2 linked regions of the Homo sapiens genome follow. The protein of the gene in region 2 interacts with the protein of the main gene of each other region in a biochemical or structural test. Each region holds a gene or a part of one and is shown on either strand. Other genes may lie near its edges.

The links.
Region 1: the proteins of PRKAR2A (region 2) and AKAP13 form a complex in vitro, tested with the Homo sapiens proteins (3 studies listed by BioGRID, with this or other methods).

Annotation. Positions count from the first base shown.
Region 1 is NC_000015.10:85,383,391-85,391,349, reverse strand, and holds part of AKAP13 (A-kinase anchor protein 13), read right to left. Parts: intron 7,675-7,959; exon of another isoform or gene 7,615-7,674; intron 7,288-7,614; exon of another isoform or gene 7,240-7,287; intron 7,144-7,239; exon of another isoform or gene 6,953-7,143; intron 1-6,952. UniProt on the Homo sapiens protein: Scaffold protein that plays an important role in assembling signaling complexes downstream of several types of G protein-coupled receptors.
Region 2 is NC_000003.12:48,767,647-48,775,605, forward strand, and holds part of PRKAR2A (cAMP-dependent protein kinase type II-alpha regulatory subunit), read right to left. Parts: intron 5,463-7,959; coding exon 5,309-5,462; intron 1-5,308. UniProt on the Homo sapiens protein: Regulatory subunit of the cAMP-dependent protein kinases involved in cAMP signaling in cells. Type II regulatory chains mediate membrane association by binding to anchoring proteins, including the MAP2 kinase.

The sequences.
Region 1 (7,959 bases), on a different chromosome or scaffold from region 2:
AGCATCACATAAAAACGTCATTATCTTTCCACTATCACCAATATCCTTACAGACTACAAATGGAAAATAGAGTTCACTAATATTTTTATCATGCTTAGAGAAGAAAAGTTTTCAGCATGTTTAGAATCCTAACTAATTCTGATATAATATGCAAGATAATTGTTTTAGGTCACTACCATCTTCCTTCATTCATATCTAGCCTTCCTTTAGTTACTATACATAGTGGTGGTTGTTTTATGACTGTCATGATTATTAACTACTATGCCATGAGCCCCTATTATGGAGCTTTATATATCCCTAATTCCCACTAAAACCTCCCACTCTCCCTTCTCTATCTACAATTCTCTAATTCATACACCCAGTCCAGACCATCACTGAACTCCAGAACTGTATATCCAAATGCTTACTGATACCTTCACTTAAAAATTTCACAGATCTCAAACTTAGCATGTCAACAGGGAAATCACAATTTCAACCTCTCAGCAAACTGATTCCACATCTTCCCCATTTACCCAGTTGTTCAGGTAAAACACCTAGGAATCCTCCTTAATTTCTTTCTTTCCTTTAGAACCTTTTTCCAATCTGTAAGTAATCCTATAGTTCTATTTTCAGCGTATATGGATTCAAACCGCTTCTCACCACTTTCGCTGCTACCACCCTAATCCAAGCCACCATCTTCTCTAGCCTGAACGACTGCAAATCTCTTAACTAGTCTCTCCGTTTCCACTACTGCTCCCTATGCCAAGAGTAAAGTTTTTAAAGCCTAAATCAACCTTGTCATGCCTTGCTCAAATCCTTCAGCTGTTTCCCACCATACCTAAGAGCCTATTTGATCTGGTCTCTGGCTACACATACAAACCTTATCTCCTCACGCTCTTTCTCACCCATTCCAGCCACACCAGGCTCCCTGTTCATTCTCCCATCTCAGGTCCTTTGCACTTGATGTTCCTTCCATACTTCCTCTGAATCTTCATGTGACTTGCTCCCTTGACTTTCTTCAGGTCTGTTCAAATCTCACCTCCTCAGTAAGGCCTTGTCTGACCTCCCCAATCTCTGCTAATACTCTTCATATCCTTCCTAGAATCATCACCACCAGACATGACTGCAATTGTTTGTTCACTCGTTTATTTTCTACTTCCCTCAATAGGATATAGATTAACGGCAGCAACTACAGATGTCACTGAATTCCCATTACCTAGAACCGTGCCTGACAAACAAAAGATACTTGAAAAAATTAACAAACAACCCTACAAGGTATGTCATATAACCATTTGCCAAGAGAAAAGAGAAGATTAGATTTCAGAGACAAATAACTTACCTAAAGCTGCATAGTAAATAAATAGCAAATGCACCTGAAAGAGCCAGCACTCTACCCACTGACTCACTACAACTTGCGACATAAAGCATATATGCTAAGAAACAAAAACGCAAAAGCAAGCATTTCTACATGAAAACACCAGATCACAAGTGTTACAGATCTTTTAGAATCTGTCTAGCAGGTTTTCTGCTTTTCACTGGAAGACTCCCCCACGGGGGGACAGAAAATAATAGATTATAGTGATCCTTCTCTTTCTGTTCATCACCATAGCAATTCATTTCTTTGATTAATCTTAGGTATGTACCATGTGCCTCTTCAACTAAAAGATACCTACATTGTTTTGTATTTCCCACAAAGCAATGGCTGAGCTACTGTCAGAAGATAGTCAACAAATACTTCTTTGTTATTTATACCCCCAAAGATTTTGAGAATCCTGTAATGAAATTTTAAGAACCACCAACAAAGCATACTCACCCAAAGGACTTCAGCTGCTAACCATGACGGAGTAACTGGATCCAGATTTATCCTGGCATCCTCCCTAACTACTAGAAAAGTGGACAAAATGCATGAGGCAGCATCCTTTAGAGCCTGAACAACAGGTAGCACAGAACTGCAGTCCCAAAGAGAAGGGAACAAATGAGATAAGCCCTAAAATCGCCCCAGCTTTCTGGCTGGAGGTACCTTCTAGACCATGGTGCAATGAGGAGGATCAAGCACAACATGACAGCCTTGTCAAGTTTAGAAAACAAACATAGCTTGGGAAGGCTAAGGAGTTTGAAAATTGCAGAGTACGAGAGAAGAGGAGGGAGCTGTATGAAAAAGGAGCTCCAGAAATCAGCATAGAGGCCCCATGAGTCTCACACCCAGTAGTAAGCCAAGCATGCATATTGTAAAAATACATGAGGGCACGCAAAGAATCACCCAGGAACTGTAAGCTAAATGATCTCCAAAGTTCACACAGGGCTGGGAGACATTTGTGTTCTCAACTGCCAGAATAGAGTCCTCAAGGAGAGCCCAATTCTTCAATGAAAACTACAGGAGCTTCATGCCTTAGTAATGGGGTGTAACAAGCAACTTACACACATAAGTTTGGCAACTTAACTTGCCAAAACAAAGTATGATACTCTTTAAAGCAATGGTTCTTGTGTTTGAAATAACTTTACCCCCAAGGAGACATCTGACATTTAACAGATAAGGACTCAACAACTATCATGAATATTATACATATGATCAAGAACCTATTTTTAAAATGAACATAACGGGAAACAAATGGAAGAAATAAAAAAAGATTCAGTAGCAAATGGAACCCAAAGACATGTAAAAAATAATACATCACGACTAAATGAGTATTATCACAAGAATGCAAAGCTATTTCAACGTATTACACCAGACTAAAGAAGAAAAAACATATGATTATGTCAATAAATACAGAAAAACCTTTGACAACATTCAATATCTATTCATGATAAAAACTCTCAGCAAACTAAACATAGAAGACAATTTCCTCAACTTGATAAAAGACATCTACAAAAACAAACACCTATGGCTACCATCATATTAATGGTCAAACACTCAGTGTTTTCCCCTCTAACATCAGGAAAAAGGAAAGGATGTCCACTTGTAAAACTCCTATTACACATTACACTGAGGGTCCTAGATAGTTCAGCAAAGTAACAAAAAGAAATCACGCCCAGCGCTGTAGCTCACGCCTGTAATCCTAGCACTTTGGGAGGCTGAGGCTGGCGGATCACTTGTGGTCAGGAGTTTGAGACCAGCCTGGCCAACATGGTGAAACCCAGTCTCCACTTAAAAAAAAAAAAATACAAAAATTAGCCGGGCATGACAACATGCACCTGTAATCCCAGCTACTTAGGAGGCTGAGGCACGAGAATCACTTGAACCTGGGGGGCCACAGGTTGCAGTGAGCTGAGATCGCACCACTGCACTCCAGCCTGGGTGACAGAGCGAGTCTCTATCTCAAAAAAAAAAAAAGGAAATGAAAGTATACAAAGTGAAAACGAAGAAATCAAACTGCCCTTATTTGCCAATGACAATAATGTCTATGCAGAAAATTCCAAAAATCTACAAAAAAAGCTTCTATTACTAAAAATGAGTTTAGCAAGGGTGTAGGATCCAAGGTCAGCAAATAATATAAAATGATCTTTCTATATACCAGCAATGAGCAACTGGAAATTGAGAAGTATCATTCACAACAACACCAGAATACATGAAATACATGTATAAGATTACAAAACACATGCAAGATCCAATTGCTAAAAACTACAAAACACTAATCAAAAATCTAAGGTCTAAATAGATATACCATGTTCATGGCTCATTATTAAAATGTCAATTGCCCCCTAACTGATTTCCAGCTTCAACACAATGCCAATCAAAAACCACAGCAGGCTGGGCATGGTGGGTCATGCCTGTAATCCCTACACTTTGGGAGGCCACAGTGGGAGGATCACTTCATCCCGGGAGTTTGAGGCCAGCCTGGGCAACATAGAGAGACTCTGTCTCTACAAAAATAAAAAAATTAGCCAGGTAGTGCATGACTGTGATCCCAACTACTTGGGAGGCTGACGTGGGAGAATCGCTTGGGCCCAGGAGATCAAGGCTGCAGTGAGTGGTTATCCTACCACTGCATTCCACACTGGACAACTGAGTGAGACCCTATCTTTTTTTGTTTTTTTAAGACGGACTCTCGTTCTATCACCCAGGCTGGAGTAAAGTGGCGCAATGTCGGCTCACTGTAACCTCCATCTCCCGGGCTAAAGCAATTCTCCTGTCTCAGCCTCCCAAGTAGCTGGGATTACAGGCGCCCACCACCACGCCCAGCTATTTTTTGTATTTTTTAGTAGAGACGGGGTTTTGCCATGTCAGCCAGGCTGGTCTCGAACTCCTGATCTCAGGTGATCCACCCGCCTCAGCCTCCAAAGTGCTAGGATTACAGGCGTGAGCCACCACACCCGGCTGAGACCTCATCTTAAAAAAGAAAAAAAAGAAAAAGAAAAACCCAGCAGGACTTGTGGATAACAGCAAGATGAATCTAAAATATGCACAAAAGGCAATGCAACTAAAATACCCAAAAAACAATTCTGAAAAATAATAAGATAACTCACACTACCTGATTTTAAAACTTACTCTAAGGTGACAGTAATCAACAGTGAGGTGATAGAGAAATGAAAGACACAGATCAATGGAATAGGAGAGAGAATCCAGAAACAAAACCACACATTTATGATCAACTTGCAAAAAAAAAAAGGCACAAAGGTAATCAACAGAGAAAGGACAGTCTTTTCAAAAACTGTTGCTGGAAAAATTGTAAATCCATCCACAAAAAAATAAACTCAATGCATACCTTGCACCATTTAGGAAAATTAAATCAAAGCAGATAATAAATGTAAATATAAAATTTTAAATGATAAAACTTCTAGGCGAGCCGGGCACAATAGCTCACGCCTGTAATCCCAGCACTTTGGGAGGCTGCGGTGGGTGGCTCACTTGAGGTCAGGAGTTCAGACCACCCTGGTCAACATGGTGAAACCCCATCACTAGTAAAAATACAAAAATTAGGCATGGTGGTGGGTGCCTGTAATCCCAGCTACTCAGGAGGCTGAGGCAGGAGAATCACTTGAACCCGGGAGGCGGAGATTCCAGTGAACAAGATCTCACTCACGCCAGCCTGGATGACAGAGTGAGACTCCATCTCTAAAAAAAAAAATAATAACTTGTAGGAGGAAATATAGGGGAAAGTCTTTGAGCTCTTAAGTTAGGCAAAGATTTCTAAACTATTATACCAAAAGCATGATCCACTCAGGGAAAAAACAAAAAAACAAAAAAACACTGGATATCATAAAAATTAAGAACTTCTGCTCTTCAAAAGACATTATTAAGACAAGAAGGCCAGACACAGTGGCTCGCGCCTGTAATCCCAGCACTTTGGGAGGCCGAGGCAGGCAGATCACTTGAGGTTAGGAGTTCAAGATCAGCCTGGCCAACATGGAAAAGCCCCATCTCTACTAAAATACAAAAATTAGCTGGGTGTGGTGGTGTGTGCCTGTAATCCCAGCTACTCGGGAGGTTAAGGCAGGAGAATCACTTGAACCCAGGAGGCAGACGTTGCAGTGAGCCAAGATCTCACCACTGTACTCCAGCCTAGGTGACAGAGCCAAACTCCATCTCGAAACAAACAAACAAAAAAAGACATTATTAAGACAAGTAAAAACAGACTAGGAGAAAATATCTGCAAATCATGTATTTGATTCCAAAGTATATACAAAAACTCATTTTTTAAGCAAAAGATTTTGAATTGACATCAAAGAATGACAAATAATCAGATGAAAAGATACTTAATATCATTAGTCATTGGGCAAATGAATAAAAAGGCTACATTCCGTGTGATTCCATTTTTACAACATTCTTGAAAAGGCAAAAAACCATGGAGACAGAAAACAGATCAGCAATTTCCAGAGTCTGGGGGTAGAGAACCGGTTGAGTACAAAAGGGCTCAGAAGAATTCTGGAGGATGAAGGGACTGTCCTGTTTGCAGCAGTGGATATATGAATGTATACACCTGTCAAAACTCAGAGAATGTTACACTAAAATGGCGGAATTTTAGTGAATGTAAACTATACATATGAATAATTAAAGAATGAAAAAATAGAGACTAAAGAGACATAATGATGTGCTGAGTGAACTTTAATTTTACTCTGTCCAAAATTTTTCTTAATCAACTATAAAAGATATTTGGGAGACAAATAGAGAAAGTTGAATAGGTATTGAATAATATTATAGAATTAACGTTAATCTTTCTTGTTGTGAATAACTGCAGTTGGTTATGTAGAAAAAGGGTCAGCAAACTTCTGTAAAAGCCCAGATAGTAAATATTTTCTGCTTTGCAGATCACATGGTCTCTGTTGTAACTACTCAACTCTGCTACTATAGCACCAAAGTAGCCAGAGAAGAGCTTACAGAGTGACATAAATGGTCAAAAACCTCACACGTTTTCCTTCTCTCCCATACTAGCACCCATATCATACAAACACACTGATATCCACATTCCCCAGGCACTGAACACAGCATTGCCCCACACAAATGTTCATACAATCACGGTATTTCAGTACCAGGTCCATCCTTACAGCAAGGTCTGACAAAAACACATTATCCATTCATCTTCTATTCATAACGTCACAATCAACTTGTAGGTGGACGAGAAAACTATAAATATGAGGACAAACGCAGGAAACAAACTTTCTTCCACTGACCAGTGAGGACAGATGCATGAAACAAACCTTTTTTTTTTTTTTTTTCAGACGGAGTCTCGCTCTGTCGCCCAGACTGGAGCACAGTGGCATGATCTCGGCTCATTGCAACCTCCACCTCCCGGGTTCAAGCGATTCTCCTGCCTCAGCCTCCCAAGTAGCTGGGATTACAGGCACCTGCCACCCTGCCGGGCTAGTTTTTGTATTTTTAGTAGAGATGTGGTTTCACCATGTTGGCCAGGCTGGTCTTGAACTCCTGACCTCAAGTGATCCGCCCGCCTCAGCCTCCCAAAGTGCTGGGATTACAGGCGTGAGCCACTGCGCCAGGCTATGAAACAAACTTTCTTCCACCCACAGCTTTCTCGTCTCTCCCCATTTACAGCAGTAAGACAGCCTAACCTGGGAAAGAGAGAGGGAAGCTACTTCCAAATGGATGCCTGTCCCCATCAGTAATAACCAAGTCTATTCAAGTGCCAGATGTTAACTTTAAAAGAAGGGAACATCAAAAGTCCAACTTTCTTCGCCTAGCTTTGTCAGGAATGTTTTTACCCTCAATCTGTAAGTGTGACCAACTGTAATTTTTAAAGGTTTATCCTCAATCTGTAAGTTTGATCAAATATAATTTTTAAAGGTTTACTATAATCTCTTCATCAGAAAACTAATGGAAAGATGGAATAAAATCTAAAGAAATGTCCTTAACAGGTAAATATTTCTAGAATGTATCTACTCCATCTAGGTAGTGTAAGTATTCTAAACTATGCTAGTATAACTGATTTAAATCACTGCCTTCTTCTGTAAATGGTGTCACCTTTAAAGTGTTATCTTGAAGAGGAAGTGAGTGATTTGCTCATGTCTCTGTACTGAACTAACACTGTTAACACCCAGTCCAGCTCTACCTTAAACAAGTTTGAGAAATACAGACACAATCCACACTTATTTGCCAAGACTAAGGTAAAATAAAGTTGGAACTCATATCCTCTTATGACTGATGTACTGAAAACAATCCATCTCTCACTGTTGCCCAAATAGCATAGTCACAAAGAGCTCTACCCTACCAAGCCACTCTGCAAGTCCCACTCTCAAAGGAAGACTCACAGGTGACTGAGAAGATAAACTCGCTATTGTTTCCATTATCCTTCAGTTCATCTGGCACCTTTGAAGAAATAGACTTCGATAAGACTCACAAGTCTCAAGGCCCCTTCTTTATGAAAGAAATAGCTAAACCTCTACACTCAGAAGCATCAGACTTTTAAGAATGCTTAAGTCATGTAAAAATGTACCAAAATTATTATCATTACAGCTACTAGGTAATAGCTGCCTACTCCATGTTAGATACTGTAGTTAAGTACCTCACATAGTTTCACTGATTCCTAA
Region 2 (7,959 bases):
GGACGCAGTGGCTCACACCTATAATCCCAGCACTTTGGGAGGCTGAGGCGGGTGGATCACAAGGTCAGGAGATCGAGACCATCCTGGCTAACACAATGAAACCCCGTCTCTACTAAAAATACAAAAAATTAGCTGGGCATGGCGGCACGCGCCTGCAGTCCCAGCTACTAGGGAGGCTGAGACAGGAGAATCGCTTGAACCTGGGAGGTGGAGGTTGCAGTGAGCCAAGATCACACCACTGCACTCTAGCCTGGGAGACAGAGCGAGACTCCATCTCAAAAAAAAAAACAAACAAAAAAACCCCACAAAAACAGAAAACCCCAATATTTTATTTATTTATTTAAAAAAAACCCATACAGGCTGGGAACAGTGGCTCACGACTGTATTCCCAGCACTTTGGGAGGCTGAGGTGGGGAGGTGGGTGGATTGTTTGAGCCCAGAAGTTTGAGAACAGCCTGGGCAACATGGCGAAACCCATCTGTACAAAAAATACAAAAATTAGCCAGGCGTGGTGGCGTGCACTTGTGGTCCCAGTTACTGGGGAGGCAGAGGTGGGAGGATTGCTTGAGCCCTGGGAGGCGAAGTTGCAGTGAGGTGTGAGAGCACCACTGCACTCCAGCCTGGCCAACAGAGTGAGACCGTCTCAAAAGATAGATAGATAGATAGATAGATAGATAGATAGATAGATAGATAGATATAGACAGACAGAGAGACAGACAGACAGACACACACACACACATACATAGATACATAGATAGATAAAATAAAAGGCCTGGCACAGTGGCTCACACCTATAATCCCAGCATTTTGGGAGGCCAAAGTGGGTGGATCACTTGAGGTCAGGAGTTCGAGACCAGCCTGGCCAACATGGTGAAATCTCGTGTCTACTACAAATACAAAAATTAGCTGGGCATGGTGGTGTACACCTATAGTCCCAGCTACTTGGGAGGCTGAGGCATGAGAATTACTTGAACCCTGGAGGCAGAGGATGCAGTGAGCCGAGATCACACCACTATACTCCAGCCTGGGCAACAGAGACTCCGTCTCAAAATAAATAAATAAATAAATATTAAAAAATACACAGAGGGCAGCAAAGTTAACTCCCAATATTTTACAAATCCACCTACAGTGTAACAAAGATTAGTACAATTGCAATAGCAAACAATATTTCGGCTGGGCGCATGGCTCACGCCTGTAATCCCAGCACTTTGGGAGGCTGAGGTGGGTGGATCACTTGAGGTCAGGAGTTCGAAACCAGCCTAGCCAACATGGTGAATTCCCATCTCTACCAAAAATATAAAAAATTAGCCAGTACTGTTGGCACATGCCTATAATCCCAGCTATGCAGGAGGCTGAGGCAGGAGAATTGCTTGAATCCTGGAGGCGGAGGTTGCAGTGAGCCGAGATAATGCCACTGGACTCCAGCCTGGATGACAGAGCAAGAGTCCATCTCAAAAACAACAACAACAACAACAGATTTCTAACTAAAGAGAAAACAACAAATATCTTTCTTTTTTTTTTTCTTTTTTGAGACAGAGTCTCGCTCTGCCACCCAGGCTGGAGTGCAGTGGCACAATCTCGGCTCACTGCAAGCTCCGCCTCCCTGGTTCACGCCATTCTCCTGCTTCAGCCTCCTGAGTAGCTGGGGCTACAGGCGCCTGCCACCGCGCCCGGCTAATTTTTTGTATTTTTAGTAGAGACGGGGTTTCACCGTGTTAGCCAGGATGGTCTCAATCTCCTGACCTCATGATCCGCCCGCCTTGGCCTCCCAAAGTGCTGGTATTACAGGCGTGAGCCACTGTGCCCGACCACAACAAATATCTCTTACAGCGACTTTTTTTTTTTTTGAGATGGAGTTTCGTTCTTGTTGACCAGGTTGGAGTGCAATGGCGCAATCTTGCCTCACCGCAACCTCCGTCTCCCAGGTTCAAGTGATTCTCCTGCCTTGGCTTCCAGAGTAGCTAGGATTATAGGCATGCGCCACCATGCCCAGCTAATTTTGTATTTTTTAGTAGAGACAGGGTTTCTCCATGTTTGTCAGGCTGGTCTCCAACTCCTGACCTCAGGTGATCTGCCCACCTTGGCCTCCGAAGTGCTGGGATTACAGGCACGAGCCACTACGCCCGGCAAGCGACTTTTTTTTTTTGAGACAGAGTCTCACTCTGTCACTCAGCAGGCTGGAGTGTAGTGGCATGATCACAGCTCACTGCAGCCTTGACCTCTTAGGCCCAGGTGATCCTCCCAACTCAGCGTCCCAAGTAGCTGGGACTACAGGCATGTGCCGCCACATCAGCTAATTTCTTATTTTTCATAGAGACAGGGTTTCACCACGTTGCCCATGCTGGTCTTGAATTCCTAGGCTCATGTGATTTGCCCACCGTGGCCTCCCAAAGTACTGGGATTACATCATGAGTCACCACACCCAGCTGGTTCTACCCCTTTTTACGCATGCTTTAACACTTCCCAAAACTCTCTTTTCATGTGGTGCAAGGCCAGTTCCCATGGCTGTGGAGAATATAAAAAAAGCACCAGACATCAACATAGCCTTTGATGAGCATCCAATCGAGCAGTGAAGAGGAAATTCCCACAGGCAGCAAGTGGTCAGAGGCAAGCAAACACCCCTGAAGTTCAAAAGAGAAAAGGAGTGCTACTCTCTCCTGTGACTGCAGGAATTTCCCAGGAAACCTTCTATTGACTTTCAATAAAGCAAGAGAAAGCAAAAGAGACTACGTATAGGGGCCGTGATGGCAGCTGCCCATTATAAAAGCAGGAATGTAGGATCCAACTTGAAAAACTCAGTGACGACACCAGATCCTCCCTACTTCAACCTCAGAAGGCATTTCCAAGGCCAAAGAAGAAGTCAGGCTGGAGAGGACCTTCTGTGAGTTACTTTCCTAGAGGTGGTATTGAAGCTTTGGAAGAGTCTGGGCTTGCAAAGCAAGTCAATTAACAGGAGAAAAGTAGAGGCCAAAAGGATATCTTGATAGGTCACTGACCTAAGAAAGCAAGGAGAAGAGGAAATGACTGCCAAAGGCAAGGAAATAGAAAGAATAGGAGTCTTAGGAAAGGAAGTCTCAGGAAAAGAAGGGTGGTGAGTAGCACCATGGCCATGGGGAGCTTGTGCCATCATTCTGTGAACACCCACCTTGTACCAGGCACTAAGGGAGTCACTTCTCTTATGCCCATGTATTTAATCCTCATACCCCAGCCACAAAGCAGGTGGTTTTACAGCTCAATATACAGTTTTCAATTTTCATTGAGACTTGGTCTTAGAGATTATCCAAGAATGGGTTATTTGGCCGGGTGCGGTGGCTCTTGCCTGTAATCCCAGCACTTTGGGAGGCCGAGGTGGGCAGATCACCTGAGGTCAGGAGTTCGAGACCAGCCTGGCCAACATGGTGAAACTCCATTTCTACTAAAAATACAAAAATTGGCTGGGCGTGGTGGCACATGTGCACACGTCTGTAATCCCAGCTACTCAGGAGGCCGAGGTAGGAGAATCGCTTGAACCCAGGAGGCAGAGGTTGCAGTGAGCCAAGATCATCTCAAAAAAGAAAAAAAAGAAAGAATGTGTTATTTGGCTGGGCACAGTGGCTCATGCCTGTAATTCCAGCACTTTGGGAGGCCAAGGCAGGAGGACTGCTTGAGCCCAGAAGTTCAAGACCAGCCTGAGCAACATAGTGAGACTCTGTCTCAACAACAACAACAACAAAAAGACAGGTGTGGTGGTGCACACCTGTAGTCCCAGCTACTTGGGAGGCTGAGGTGGGAGGATTGCTTGAGCTCAGGAGGTCAAGGCTGCAGTTAGCCCCTGCTCACACCAAAAACAATGTTATTTAATTTCTAAGTGTCTGGAGATCTGTTATTGATTTTTAGTTTCTTTCTTTCAATTGTAGTTAGAGAACACATTCTGATTTCATTTTTTCTTTAAATTTTCATTATTTCTTAAAATTTTAAATAGAGATGTGGTCTCACTATGCTGCCCAGGTAGGTCTCAAATTCCTGGACTCAATCCTCCCACCTCAACCTCCCAAAGTGCTGGGATAACAGGCTTGAGCCACTGTGGTTGGCCTGATTTCAAATCTTTTACATTTTTTAAGTTTTATTTTATATTCCAGGATATGGCCTATTTGGGTGAATGTTCCATGGGCTTGAAAAAAATGTTCATTCTGTTGTTGCTGTGTGCAGTGTTCTATAAATTTCAGATAGCTTTTGTTAATTAATGGTGTTAAGTTCTTCTATATCCTAGCTGACACTAGCTGATTTTCTGTTTAGCTGTTCGTTCTTTTGTTTTGTTTTGTTTTTGAGATGGAGTTTTGCTTTTGTTGAATATACCTGTTAGAAGATCTGGATTTCAGGCTTTCCAGCACCCCATCTGGGATATATGGGAACCTGGGAACTCACTGTCATGTCTTTCCTCAAGCCCCAATATCCCTAGATAGTCTGCCTTCTTCTTTCCACCTTTCAGAGTCTTCCTATGTTTGCTCTATTATGTCCATAGTTGTTTGTGTGTGTGTTTAAGTTTTTAAGTGAGAACACTAGCATGGAATAGGGCTATTCCATCTTGGTCTGAACCAGTAGTTAGCACCAAGGCTTATTATTTGATTTTGTATTTTTTGAGATGGAGTCTTGCTCAGTCGCCCAGGCTAGAGTGCAGTGGCGTGATCTTGGCTCACTGCAACCTCCGCCTCCTGGGACTACAGGCGCCCATCACCATGACTGGCCAATTTTCATATTTTTAGTAGAGACACGGTTTTACCATGTTGCTCAGGCTGGTCTCGAACTCCTGACCTCAAGTGATCTTCCCGCCTTGGCCTCCCCAAGTGCTGGGATTACAGGTGTGAGTCACCGTGCCTGGCCCCCATTATTTATTATTCCCCTATACAAATCTATTCTTGAGTTTTTCAATCATTGAGTCCCCAAGTGTGTGACCTATCCTTAAGTCACTGTATCTCTTTCAGGAGCACTCTTAATTTAACATCAGGATGTCACAATAAAGTGCTTTTTTTTTTGAGACGGAGTCTCGCTGTGTCGCCCAGGCTGGAGTACAGTGGCGCGATCTCGGCTCACTGCAAGCTCCACCTCCCGAGTTCACGCCATTCTCCTGTCTCAGCCTCCCAACTAGCTGGGACTACACATGCCCACCACCACACCTGGCTATTTTTTTTGTATTTTTTAGTAGAGATGGGGTTTCACCGTGTTAGCCAGGATGGCTGTAAGATATAGTGTAAATCAACAGCCCAAGGACAGAGACACAGAAAGGGAATTAATACTGTGCCTTGCAAGGGGAACGATTTCTCTCACTCACCAGTCCCCAAAGGGAGCCTTCTGAGGTAGCAACAATGGTAGCAGCTCTCGGGGTGTTGTACATCAGAGCTAGTTCTCCAAAACTGCCACGGTTGTCATATTGACCAACAGAGCGGGTTTGATTATCTTTTGTTACTAAAATGTCATAAGTTCCCCTAGAAGAATGACAAAGAATAATTTAATTAGTTACTTCTGATAATAAATGTTAAGAACTGGCAGGTACATATAATAGAAAATGTTGTTTTAAGAGATTTCCAATGGAACTTTGCTAGTATATAAAAAAAACATATTTTTGTATTTTGACTTTGTACTGTGTCCTATAACCTTGCTAAACTCACTTATTAATTCTAGTAGCCTTTTTGTGGCATTCTTGGAATTTTCTTTTCTTTTTTTTTTTTTTTTTTTTTTGAGACGGAGTCTCGCTCTGTCACCCAGGCTGGAGTGCAGGGGCGGTATCTCAGCTCACTGCAAGCTCCACCTCCTGGGCTCACGCCATTCTCCTGCCTCAGCCTCCCGAGTAGCTGGGACTACAGGCACGCGCCACCAGGCCCAGATAATTTTTTTGTATTTTTAGACAGGGTTTCACCATGTTAGCAGGATGGTCTCGATCTCCTGGCTTCGTGATCCGCCCGCCTCAGCCTCCTAAAGTGCTGGGATTACAGGTGTGAGCCACCACACCCGGCTAGAATTTTCTACATAGAGGATCATGTCACCTGAAACAAAGTTTTAATACTTCCTTTCCAATCTATATGCCCCTTCCTTTTTTTCCCCCCATCTTTAACTTAAACATATATATATATACACACACACACATATATACATACACATAAATATATATATACACATATATACATTTTTTGACATATATATTTTTTTGAGACAGGGTCTTGCTCTGTCACCCAGGCTGGAGTGCAGAGGCACAATCATGGCTCATTGCAGCCTCCACCTCCTGGCCCCAAGCAATCCTCTCACCTCAGCCCCCTAGCAATCCTCTCACCTCAGCCCCGAGTAGCTGTGACCACAGACGTGTGCCACCACACCTGGCTAATATTTTATTTTTGTAGAGATGGGGTCTCACTATGTTGCCCAAGCTGGTCTGGAACTCCTGGGCTCAAGCAATCCTCCTGTCTCAGCCTCCCAAAGTACTGGGATTAAAGGCATGAGCCACCATGCCCGGCCTAATTTTTTTTCTTTTATTAATATATAATATTTTACATAATTTATGGCGTACATGTGAGTGTTTGTTGCATGCATAGAATGGGTAATGATTAAGTCAGGGTAACTGGGGTATCCATCACCTTGGATATATGTCCTTTCTATGTGTCAGTATCATTTCATGTCCTCTCTTCTATTAATAGTTACTTTGAAATATGCTAAATATTGTCACCCAAGTATAGTCACCTTATCATGCTATAAAACATTAGAACTTGCCAGGTGCAGTGGCTCACACCTGTAATCTCAGCACTTTAGGAAGCTAAACTGGGAGGGTTGCTTGAGCCCAGGAGTTTGAGACAATCCTGGGCAACGTATGGAGACTTCTCTCCACAAAAAGGAAAAAAAAAAGACATTAAAATTTATTTCTTCTATCTAACTGTGTGTTTGTACCCATTAGCCAACTTTTCTTCATCCACCCACCACCCTTCTCAGTTTCTGGTATATATCATTCTATTCTCTATGTCTACGATATCAATGTTCTTTAGCATTCACATGTGAGCAAGAACATGTGGTATTTGTCTTCCTGTGCCTATCTTATTTACCTTAATATAGCAACCTCCATGTGGCTACAAATGACATGACTTCTTTCTTTTTTATGGTCAAATGGTATTTCATTGTGTACTATGCCACACTTTCTTTCTTTCTTCCTTTTTTCCTTGCCTCCCTCCCTCCCTCTCTTCCTTTCTTTGCCTTATTGCATTGACTATAACCTCCAGTACAATATTAAGTGGAAGTGGTGAAAGCAAACATCCTTGCCTTATTCTGAGTTGTAAGAAAAAACAATTTTTCACCATTAAATATGATGTTAGCTGTAGGTTTTTAATAAATGCCTTTAGTCTAGTTAGGGAAAGTTATTTTTGTTGCTAGTTTACTGAGCATTTTCATCACAAAAAGATGTTGAATTTTGTCAAATGCTTTGCTGTAGGTATTGATATGAATGCATGGGTTTTCTTTCATAGTCTGTTAAAACAAAGATTAAAACAAAGCAGGTCGGGCACGGTGGCTCAAGCCTATAATCCCAGCGCTTTGGGAGGCCAAGGTGGGTGGATCACCTGAGGTCAGGAGTTCGAGACTAGCCTGGCCAATCTGGTGAAACCCCGTCTCTACTAAAAATACAAAAATTAGCTGGGCGGGTAGCGGGTGCCTGTAATTCCAGCTACTCGGGAGGCTGAGGCAGGAGAATCACTTGAAACCTGGAGGCAGAGGTTGCAGTGAGCCGAGATCATGTCATTGCACTCCAGCCTGGGCGACAGAACGAGGCTCTGTCTCAAAACAAACAAACAAACAAACAAACAAAACGATACAATTATTTATCTATTGATCGGCAATAATGGCTAAAAAAAAAAAAAAATCAGAACTGACAAGCAGAAATAGGCACTCTCAACATACCACTGAGGGAAACATAAACTTTTCAGTTTCTGCAAGATAATTAAAACA